Regions from separate parts of the Homo sapiens genome. Here region 1 is linked to region 2. The links come from fine-mapping of genetic effects on plasma protein levels. A gene starts in region 2. The other region holds a variant in brackets. All regions are shown on one strand. Distances are between the middles of the regions.

Region 1 (5,322 bases), 16 kb before region 2:
ACTGTAAAAGATTATACAAGACAGCTCATGTGAGGCACCTGGCAGAGTGCCTGGCACAGGTCAGGACCCAGTAGGTGGCAGCTGTGTTCTGTGGTTAATGATCCCTAGGGGAGCTTCAGGTCCATTATTCCTTGGCACCTCAGGAAGCTTCCTCACTCCCTCTTCATCCCCTGACCCTCGCCAGTCCCAGCCTCCCCTGGCCCTGATATGGGCCAGTTAGCCCATATCATTTCCACACATGAGAACTGGCCAGAGACAGATCCCTTCAGGCTGGTACCCCAACCTCCATACACAGGCCAGAACCCCAGGATGTCCCCTGCCACCCCAGCTGCATGGACAGCGCTAGGCAGTGCATCTCCTAAGGGCAAAGTCAGGGCCTGGGGCCACCCCTTCCTACTTGTGAAGAGAGAGAGAGAGAGAGAGAGAGAGAGAGAGAGAGAGAGAGTGTGTGTGTGTGTGTGTGTGTGTGTGTGTTTAGGAAGGACACAGCCCTTACACACCTGCTTGATCACCTGCACTACTTCCTGGATGTGGGAGTTGTTAATCTCTCTCTTCAACCTGTTGGTGTAATTGGAGTTTTAGAAAAGGGAGAAAACCCCTAGGGAGAGTAGGGTAACATGAAGTCTACGCAGGATGTAGGCAAATGAGAAATCCAACATAGGGCAGGAACCAGCTGGGGGCAGGTGTGGGGACCCAAGGAGTATGTAGGGGCCACTGGGAGTCCTGGGGCCCTCTGAGGGAACCATTTCCCCATCAAAACACACTGTCCTTCCGTGGGAAACAGTGCCACCACAGTGGACAGGCTACAATCCCAAGGCCTCAGCTCCCTCCCTGCAGGCTTGGCTGCCTCCAGAGCTCTGCCCATGTAGTGTTGGCCTCCGTGTTTTGTCTGAGGAGGACACTCTGATCAAAGGTGACAGGGGGGATCCGCTTTTTGGAGAGCCAGGGGACAGATGCATCTTTGGGAAGTGAGTCAGGATCCATTTGTAGAGAGGCCCCTTTCCACCTGAAGTGGGGTCTGCCCAGCCCTGGGCCTCCCCTCCAGGGCTCACCTCTCCTGGGCCATCTTGTCTGTGGTGACTTTGGTCATGCCCTGGATCCGCTCCAGTCTCTTTGTCTCCAGCTTTTTCTTCATCTCTTTGGTGTCGCTGCAGAGAGACAGGCATGAAGGAGCTGTTTTGTGCGGCTGAGCCCTTGCTGGGAGGCGAAGCAGGTGTGGGAGGGAGGCAGTCGTACTTCTCCGACGTCTCCTTCAGGGCCTTCAGCTCTGCCGCCTGTTTCTCTCTGGCCAGCTCCATCATTTTGGAGATTTGCTGCAGGGAGAGGAAGTAAGCTTGGCGAGAAGCCCTTTGTTGTTCAGAGGGAGTACGGGGGGCGGGGGTCGGTGGAGGGGAGTCGGTGAGGGGGTTGGGTCGGTGAGAGGGGCGAATGGGGTCCATGGGGGGTGGGGTCGGTGGGGCTGGTGGGGTTGTCGCCCTGCCCCTCCCGGCCACCTCGGCCACGTGCTGCTCCTTGCGCTTCAGAACGCACTCGTACTGCTCCTCGCCCTGCCGCAGCAGCTCCAGCTCCAGCCTGTCTTTCAGCTCCCGCACGCGCCCGTCCACGCCCTCAGGGCCCTCGCCCGGCGCGGCTCCGGCGCTCTCCTCGCGGGGCAGGCTCCTGGGGAGGCCACGTGGGGACAGGCCCTGAGATCCTGCGCCACCCGCGCTGCAGAGGGCAGGGCACCGCCACGAGCCTTACCTCTTCTTGCGAGAGCCCTTGCCGGGACCGAGCTTGCAGGCCCCGACGCCCCCCACGCCCGGTGGCCCGAGCTCCGCCAGCTGCGCCGCGCCCCGCTGCAGCAGCTCCTCCCAGCGCCGCGCTCCGCGCCGCTCCAACTCTCGCAGCTCCTTCTCGTGCCGCCGCTGCAGCTTCACCACGCCCTTTAGCTCCCGGAGCTCCTCCAGGCTGGCGGTCCGCGGCTCTGCGGAGGCCCGGGTGAGGCGCAACACCGGCCAGGCCGTCCTGCCCGTCCAACCCCCAAGGAGCCCCGGACCCGCCCCAGGCTCATCCCCGAGATCACCGGGCTCAGCAGGCCTTACCCGCAGCTTCTTTCATAGCCTCTTCCCTGGCCCCGGCCCTGGCTGCTGCAAGAGCCACGGGCTGGGCTGTCAGGTGCTCTGGGGGGCCCCTTGGCTCCGTTCGCCTCCTCCACACCGCCCCCTGGGAGTCGCAGTATGTGCCCCCTGCCCCGCACTTTCCCTAGGTGAAATTTTTTAAAGGGAAGTGCCTGTGGGTGCAGAGGTGGAGGTGCCCCCAGTAGGTGTGCGGACCGAAGCTCATACCTGGTGACCCATTGCTCGTTGGGGCCAACGCCCCATTGACCTGGCTGGCAACTGGACTCGCCAGTGGGAAGGGCTTCTGTGTAGGGAGAGCAGGTCAGGAAGGTGGCTTGACAGCCCTCTCTCCCCGAGCCTGGGACTCGGCCCTCTCCCCAGCCTCTCCCATAAATAGGGCTAATCTCTGGTGAGCCCCTGGCAGCAGTGCAGGCAACACAGACCTCAGGCAGACCTCCCATGGCCTCCTTGAGCTTCACAGACTTCGTGTCATGGGCACTGAAGAACTTAATGGGGTTGGCGAGGGCCACAGTGAGATCTGGGTGGGTGCACAGGACATTACAACATAGTGTATATGGAGATGTGGCTGGAAGTCTCCCCTGTCCTCACCCACTCCAGGATGCCCCATCTGGATCCCACCCCAACTCTGGAAGCTGGCTTGATGGGAAGGAAGGGGGAACAGACACCCCGAGGCTCCTGGCATGCCATGGGCTCCTACCTGCCCAAGCACCAGGTATGTAGTCCTTCATCTCCAGGAAGATGAAGAGCGCAGGCATGGTGAGGGGCATGTTGCTCTCACTGTGCAGGCACAGGTGGTGG[T/C]ACCCTGTGAGACAGGACAGGGTAGGCAGTGAGCCAGAGCCCGTTCCTGCCAGCACTGTGCACACACAGCCTAGGACCCAAGGGTCTGAGTCTGGCACTGCACCATCCTGGCTGTGTGACTTCAGCCAGGTTACTTTAACTCTCTGAGACTTTACTCATCTATGAAGAGGGGATGAGTGTCTACTCATGTGGTTATTGTGAGGATGAAGTGAGAATGTATTATAAGCCCTTAGCAAATTTTAAATGCCCATAAGTGTCAGCTACTTGAGAAACTGCCCCAGCCGTTTCAGAAAATTACAGCAATTCTGTTAGGTGGGCAGAGTTCCCGCCTCTCTTAGGTTCCTGGAGAGGTACTGTTCTGCCCTACTCCTTACAATGTGAGGGCTTAGGTAAGGCCTCACTCCAGGCCCCCTCCCAGAAGCTGCCCCACCCTGTGCACAGGCTCCTGCTGCTGATCTTGGAACAGTGAAGGACCCCACTCCTTACCAGAATTTAGGGCATTGATGGGGATGATGCGGTGTCCAAGAAACTTGTTGCCTTCCTCCATCACAGCCACTCTGAGGGAGGCCAGCTCAGGCATCAAGATCTGGGGAGAGTTGGGGACATGACAGGCTGGGAGGGGAGAGAGGAGCCAAGCTGACCCCCTCCCTGGCTCCAGAAGTCTCAGCATCAGTGTGAGAACATGGTGAGTGTCACCAGATTTGGTGAGGACAGACAGAGGGCACACTCTAGGCCATATACAAAGACATCCCCACAGCACATGCCATGGCTGGTTCCACACAGGGGAGGAGGGCTGGATTTGCAGCCCAAGGCTGAGGGGGCCTGGCACAGATAGCCCTTGACAGCTTTGCCAGTGGGTATCCAGTGGGGCAAAAGACTCCCATGGGAACCTCAACCCTGAGTGCACATTTCTGCCTCTAATCTTCACACACACACACTCTGCCTACCAAGTAAACTTCTGTAAACTTGGGTTTTGCACTCTTGAAACAGGAGGGCCCAGGGTGAGGGATGGGAAGAGGAGGAGGAGGAAGGTCAAGGAGCTGCCTTGTTTACTTCCTCTTGTCTGTAAGTAGAGGCCAAGAACTAGACAGACTCTGCCCTGCCATGCCCTGGCCCCCACCTTCTCAAAGACAAAGGGCTCCTCCTTCCAGACAGGATTGATGGAGTTAGTACTGGGTGACAGCTTAGTTCGATAGCGCCTCTTGGGGTCCCCAGGAAGGCCAAACAGCTCCACTTCTACATAGGTGCGCACGCTGCGTTCTGACAGGAACTGCCCAGAGATCACCTGGGGGTAGGGGCCCAGGAAAACCAGCATCAAATCCCCACCCAGGCTCTTCCCCAAGCATCTGGGGCCCCTGGCTGCCTAGAGCTGAAGCATTCGTTCTTGGGTGTTATGAAGAACCTCACTCAGCTCTGGCCATGAGTAGAGAGGCTGTGTAGCCCACGGGTTACAGCTAAGCTCTGAGGACCAGGGTGCTTCTAGCATGAAGGGAAGAGGTGGGCCTCCCACCTCCCTCCCTAGCCAAAGAGGGAACAATGCCTTCCCCCAGGACCTGGGGCTCCGGCTGCCCCACTCTGCCCACTCTTCCTCCCCTCCCCCACCCCAGCCTCAGCCCTTCCCGTTGGTTTCCATGGGGACCAAGTGGCAGCCTCCAGTGCTGAGGAGGAGGCAGTTTCCAAGGCAACTTGCTACTGCAGGAACTGGCTGGGGCTGAAGTTTCCAGGATATCAGGGGAGGGGGTTGCGAGTTGAGTGAGGGGTGGGCTCCTGTGCCCTTCTACTCAAGACCTCAGCCTCCCGGCCACTTGTGTGCCCCAGGGCCTTGCCGTAATGGAAAGGGTGGTGGCCACCACCACGTCGATGCGGTCCACTGAGAAGGGGTTGAACTGCTTGTCCGGCCGGCGCATGAACTCATGCTTGAGGAGGTAGCCGCTCTGCCCGTTGAACTCAAATACTGCCATGTTCTGCTGCATGGGCAAGTCTGGAGGGACAAGGACACTCAGTGAGGAAGGCCCAGCCCTGGGGCTGTGCCCAGTCTCCATTTCCTCCATTCCCAGCCTTTGCTGTCTGGTGAATGGGGAGGTTGGGTGGACCGTGAGGATGAGGGCTTCTCCTGTCCCAGTCTGGTTCCTTGCAGTGTCTCCTCTCTTAGGCAGGGTCCACAGCCTGGAGGCAGCAAGGAGGAAAGCCACAGCCAGGCTGAGGGACTGTGGTGGGAGCTGGGGCAGCTGGGGCAGGTGGCCCACAGACATACCTGGGTGGAGCGGCCAGAACCCACGCCGGCAGCCTGGCATCTTTACATCCATCATGTATGCGCAGGCACATGGGCACAGGCTAATGCATTTCTACCCCCAAATTCTCACGCACCTGGGCATGCTCCCAGAGTCTACACTAACAGCAGGACTCC
Region 2 (5,359 bases):
AAAATAGAAATGCTGGGGGGACTTCAAGCAACAGGTTCCCATTCGAAGGGGTGGGTCTCCCAAGAATCCTCAAAAATGTCCTCCAGAGAAAGAATCAGCTTTAAGCTTCTGCCAGGCTCAGAAAGCATGAGCCAATTTATGACAGCACCTGTTTAAATAGAACTTGGTTACCCCTTTCCCACCTCCCTCCCTATAGCTCATGCCTAGAGGGGCCTTGAGCAGGACCAGCAGGGAATCCCACCAAGGCCCTTTCCAGGGGGCCTGCAGCCTACCTGAAACCATTCCTAGAAGGAGAAGGGTAGAAGATGTCAGTGTAAATAAAGGTTGGAGTTTTGATTATAGCCAGTTTCTGACATCGGACTGGATTTTGTGATGAAAAGTGACCACTGGACTGTGTTACCTGAGAGTAAATATAATGTCTTGTGGCCTTGCAGAGTTTCTTTCCATGGCCAGGGGGAGAGCTTCTCCTACCAAATATATTGTAAAGAGGCCATGGGAGATGAAATAAAGTTGGGATTTGCTTACATCCTATGTATTCTGCTTATTCAACATGGCACAGCACACCCATGCCATCCACTAACTGTGCCAAAAGCAGCCTGAAAGCAGAGCCCTGTCTCACAGCAGCATGGACCTGTGGATAGGCTTGGGACATTCTTGCTTGTGCAGGTCAGGATCCAGAGAACATCCAATGCCCTACCTTGGAGAGGGGAAGGGAACAGCCAGGTACACAGGTGCCAGCTTAGGAAGAAGGACAGTCTCCGCTGGCCACCAACCCCCGACCTCCACTGCCACCCTGTGACCCTCTGCCCAGTCAGGTTACACACACTGCCCAGAGGAACTGAGAGAGGCCACTTCGCTTTTCATTCTGAGCCACTTCCCTCATTCCACAGGCTCCTGGGGCATGTCACCTCCATGCCACTGCCATGCTACACCAACCCCACATCACTCCTAGGGAAGCAGGAAGCATCTCACCACAGGGCCCCAACCCATAGTCATGGGCAGCGAGATCCCCTAGCCTAGCCCAGCCCCGAAGGGCCTAGACCCAGACCCCCTCATCCCACCTCCCATCAGGTGGACAAGTCAGCACTAAGGGCTGTCTTCCCTCCCCCACCAAGCCTTCATTTCCCTTCCTGGGACAAGCCCAGCACTCTAACTCTCAGACTGGGCGAGCCCAGCAGCCTCCCCTCCCTGAAGGAGAATCTCCATATTGTTCTCTCCAGCCTAAGAGAATCCCTGGCCTAAGGTAACATTTTCAGGGGCCAGGAGAACCAGAGCCTGGGAGCAGCCCCGTGTAGGAAGGAACAGACACAGCAGAGAGAGGGCTGCAGGGTGCAGCAGTGTCTTCCCCTTCCCTTGCTGACAGGCCTGCATCGGGGAGCAATGCTGAGCCCAGCAAGGGGTAGCAGAAGTCAAATCAGCTCCTTCCCTGGGAGCAGAAGCCTCTAGTTCTCACTTAGGTCCAGGGGCCTTTTGTGGCTGCCCCCACAGCAGCGCAGGGGAGAGCAAGGCTTCCCTGGACAGGATGATGCCCAGTGGAGGGGGTGAAGGAGCTGGGTCTGAGCGCCCTGCCGGAGCAAGGGCAAGACATCTGTGCTGGGAGCGGGGACGAGCTCACCTCTCCTCCTAGCCTGCCTCAGCTCTGGGGTGCACTTTCCTCCTCTTCTCTTGGGGGTTTGAAGGAGAAGAGAAGCAGACCCAAATAAACTACCTCCAGTGACCACCCAGGCAGCTCACCCACTTCTCACACCTAGAACCAAGGCTTAGCCCTTTAGCTGGGGACATACACCCTTAATCCCAGGTTTGTTTATCCAAGCAGTGGTGTCAGCTGCCTGGCCAAACCACACAGGCGCCTGGATCCTAGGAGACATAAACCAATCCTCCCACCCAAGCAAAGCCCCGTAGCAGCCCGGCCCCCACCACCTGGTGCTCCAGCAGCTGAGGCCCCTGCCCCACTTACATCATCCCATTTGATGAAGCGCTCCCCTTGGCTCAGATAGGCCTTCACCTTGGGGGGCAGCAGGACAGGGTTGAGCAGAGACATGGTGCCAAGCGTTCCTCTTTGCAGAATCTCAGCAGACACAGGCAGGCAGAAGGGCAGGAAGGAGGCCAGCCAGGAGGGGGAGCCAAGCTGGGCTCAAATGGCACCCATCCCCGAGCTGCTCCAGAAATCTAGTTGCTCTTATAGCCCCTGGGGTGGCCCTGGCTGAGTGCAGGACTGAGCTGTAGCCAGAGGCCCATCTGCCTTGTAAATCACCCTCCTCCCACCCGCCCTGCCTGCCATGGGGGCCTGTGGTCACTGCTTCTGCCCAAGGAGGCTGAAGCAGGAAGCCCCCGCCTCTTCTGGAGGCCCCCGCCCCCACCCCCAGCCCCACCCTGTGCCTCTCAGCACTTCCTGCTCTGGGCTTCCTTCTCTGCGCTGCTCACAGCGGAGACGTGGTCATGAGGCCGGGTCGCCTTGGAGCCAGGGCCTCTCAGTCCCTGTGGTGGTCTCTGGTCAGATTTGGCCCAGGAGGGCTGGAGAAGGACGACATGGAGACCAGCTGGGGAGACTGCTGCCCAGGCCTGGACTGAGGGAAGGCACAGGGAGCTCACTAGGAGAAAGGACCTCCTCAGGGGAAGGGTCCAGAGCATGGGCATCTGACCCCAAAGGTTGGGAGCACCGTAGAGGCAGGGGTGGGGTGGGGACAGGGCCCAGCTGGAATGGAGTGTTTTGAATAAGCAAAGTTTGCTGAACACACGGCTCCTCTTTCTCAATGCTTCCTCCCCCATGAAAATGAGGTGCACCTGCCGGGCGGGCGGGTGCGGTGGCTCACGCCTGTAATCCTAGCACTTTGGGAGGCCGAGGCGGGCGGATCACGAGGTCAGGAGATCGAGACCATCCTGGCTAACACGGTGAAACCCTGTCTCTACTAAAAATGCAAAAAATTAGCTGGGCGTGGCAGCGGCGCCTGTAGTCCCAGCTACTCGGGAGGCTGAGGCAGGAGAATGGCATGAACCCAGGAGGCGGAGCTTGCAATGAGCCGAGATGGCGCCACTGCACTCCAGCCTGGGCGACAGAGCAAGACTCCATCTCGAAAAAAATAAAAAAAGAAAGAAAATGAGGGGCACATGAGGCAAGGCAATCACTCCCCTCACCCACCTCACCAGACTCCCACCTCTGGGCCTCTGGGACTGCCTGAGGCCTGGACCCCCACTGAGCAGCCCTAGCCCCTGCCTCCACTGCGCTCTCCTCTCTCCTCCGTGTGCCCGCCTCTGCTGTGTACCCCAGCCTGCAGCGGGGCTGGGGCGGAGGGATGGCTGCTCTGGTTGGCCAGGCTCAGCCCCAGCTGCTCAGGTGCCTGACCCACACTCTGCCCCAGGCCCAGGGAGTTCAGCACCAGTCCAGCTCAGCCCAGCCCACTTCCTCTTGCCTAATCTGCTCCTCTTATCGCCCTTCTTAGCCCAGCCTGGGAGGCAGGGAGCTCTACCCAAGACTTCCTTCCCCTCTGGGGCCTGGCCTTTTGCCCTGGGTCACCCCCCCATGGGGCTTTGCATACCCCCAACAACGGTAAGACCCTCACCCAGGCCCTAGAATTGTCGCGGCTGGAGGTCTGGTCCAGGGCAGGGTGGAGGGTGAGGGAGGACACTCTTCATGCGGAATTAAGATAATAAACTGCCCAGTGGAGGCTGGAGCTAAGGGAATTCCCAGCACAGAAATAATCTGCAGAAGAGCAATTCTAGGGCCGGGGGATGGAGCCGGAGCAGGGCCTGACCAAGCCTCTGGAAATGGTAACAATTCAGAGGACTCTTCTTCCTCGTTTCCCCCAGTCCCTTAGCGTCATCTCTCCTCTCTCCCTCCCTCCAGTCTGGGGCCCTTCTGGGGGCCCCTCTGGCAGCCCATGCTGTTCTGGGTTCCTCCCTGGGATCAGGTTCCCTCGATATCTGTTTGAATGGATTTTGCAAGGGAAATCCCTGTCCCTTCCCAAAGCCCCTGCACCTGTCACCTGCGGCTGCCCTGGTCCCGGCACCCAAGTCCCTCCCTTTCATCTGTCCTGTAGCCATCAGCCCCCTCTCCACTTTGGGCCTGGAGAGACCAGTCCATTCCTCCCCCTCAGCCTGAGGAGGAAAGGGACAGCCTCCTCTCCTCATTTCAGGATTTCAGGGCTCCTCACTCTGTTCCTTTCCATCTCCAGCTCCGAATCCACAGAACAAAGCCTTGCCCATCTTTACTCAGTGATGTCACTGCCTGCACTGTTCTTGGGACCACAACTGTAGCTTCAGTGGGGGCCTGTACTCTCCTGCTCACATCCTGACCTCCTGCAAAGCTAGCTCCAAAAATGCAGAAAATCCAGGCAGTCAGGAGAGCGGAAAATCTTCATCAAAGAGCTTTTTGCTTTTAAAAATACATTTAGGTTTGAAAATTTGTGTTGACAAAGAAAAATGTTATGTAAATAATAGTAGAGAAAATCAGGGTAGTTACATGAATGCCCCGTTTGGGAAATGTGGCCTTGGGCTCCTGGGCTGAGCTGGGTAGAGGGCAACCCTGCAGTGGGCCAGTCTCACCCCTCCAGGGTGGGCAGTGGAAGGGCAAGGATGCCCCCTGCTGGGTGCACTCAAAGCATGCATGTCCTGGAAGTTGCGGTTGGGTCTGTCATTTGTGACCCACGGGAACACCTATGCCAGAGAGTTTGGCAAGTGGGAGCCTTGGGCCATAGAATGTGGTAAGAACTTATATTCAACCAAATGTTGCCTCCCACAAGGGACATGCTTGTGACCTGGACCCCAGCACATATGTCCCAAGTTCATTTGTTCACTTGCCAGTGCTATGTGGGAGCCCCATGCATTGGTTTCCCAGTTTGCTCATCAGAGAAGTTTAATGGCAGAAGTTGAACTCAGACCTTCAGGTGCCACAGCTGCCAGCCAAATAAGAGGATCAGACTAGGTCGGTTTCTTATCTGATGCCATGATGGTTGAAGCAGTGGGTTTCAGGAGTGTGGAACCCTGTTGTCCATCTTGGTCAAGGGCTGGCCCTCTTTTGGAGGGAAGATGGCTCTTATGGTGTCTGTTTCCCAGTCTGGCAAAGGGAGCCACACTCACCACTCTAGGAACCCAGCCACTTACTAGCTGGTTTATCTTGTGATACTTAACCTTCTTGGGCCTCAGCCTTCTCACCTGTAAAATGGGGATAATAATGCCTCATGGGGATGTTGCAAGGATTAAAGAATATAATGAATGGTACTTAATACAGTGCCTACACATGAGCTCAATAATACTATCATTATCATTATGAGTTATCATTGTTATTTTATTATTACTTATTAGCAGACACTGACAGGAAAAATGGCAGTTTCTTATTCCTTCTTCAACAGTTCTTTCTACA

What was found. PIP is the posterior inclusion probability: the model's chance that the variant is causal. Protein levels are from antibody-based Olink assays in UK Biobank. Linkage for the fine-mapping came from a reference panel and not from the study's own genotypes, which makes the PIPs less certain.
Region 1: its variant is fine-mapped to the plasma level of the PLCB2 protein (UK Biobank, PIP above 0.99). The variant lies in the coding sequence of PLCB2. If it changes the protein, the assay may bind it differently, which can mimic a change of level.

What each region holds. Positions count from the first base shown.
Region 1 is chr15:40,289,525-40,294,846 of GRCh38, forward strand. PLCB2 (phospholipase C beta 2) reads right to left here. Exons shown (of 32, transcript NM_004573.3): 19 at 4,742-4,896; 20 at 4,036-4,200; 21 at 3,402-3,501; 22 at 2,815-2,919; 23 at 2,540-2,634; 24 at 2,325-2,400; 25 at 2,082-2,126; 26 at 1,741-1,963; 27 at 1,494-1,659; 28 at 1,237-1,313; 29 at 1,053-1,148; 30 at 501-558. Among named protein-coding and RNA genes, the nearest start is that of ANKRD63, 9.1 kb to the left of the region's middle. RefSeq lists enhancers at 1,783-2,328, 2,329-2,873. The variant T/C (reference allele first, on the strand shown) is at 2,916.
Region 2 is chr15:40,305,632-40,310,990 of GRCh38, forward strand. PLCB2 (phospholipase C beta 2) reads right to left here and starts at 2,304. Exons shown (of 32, transcript NM_004573.3): 1 at 1,958-2,304. The coding sequence starts at 2,041. LOC112268152 (a long non-coding RNA gene) reads right to left here. Exons shown (of 3, transcript XR_002957721.2): 3 at 4,406-5,151. RefSeq lists a silencer at 4,434-4,637.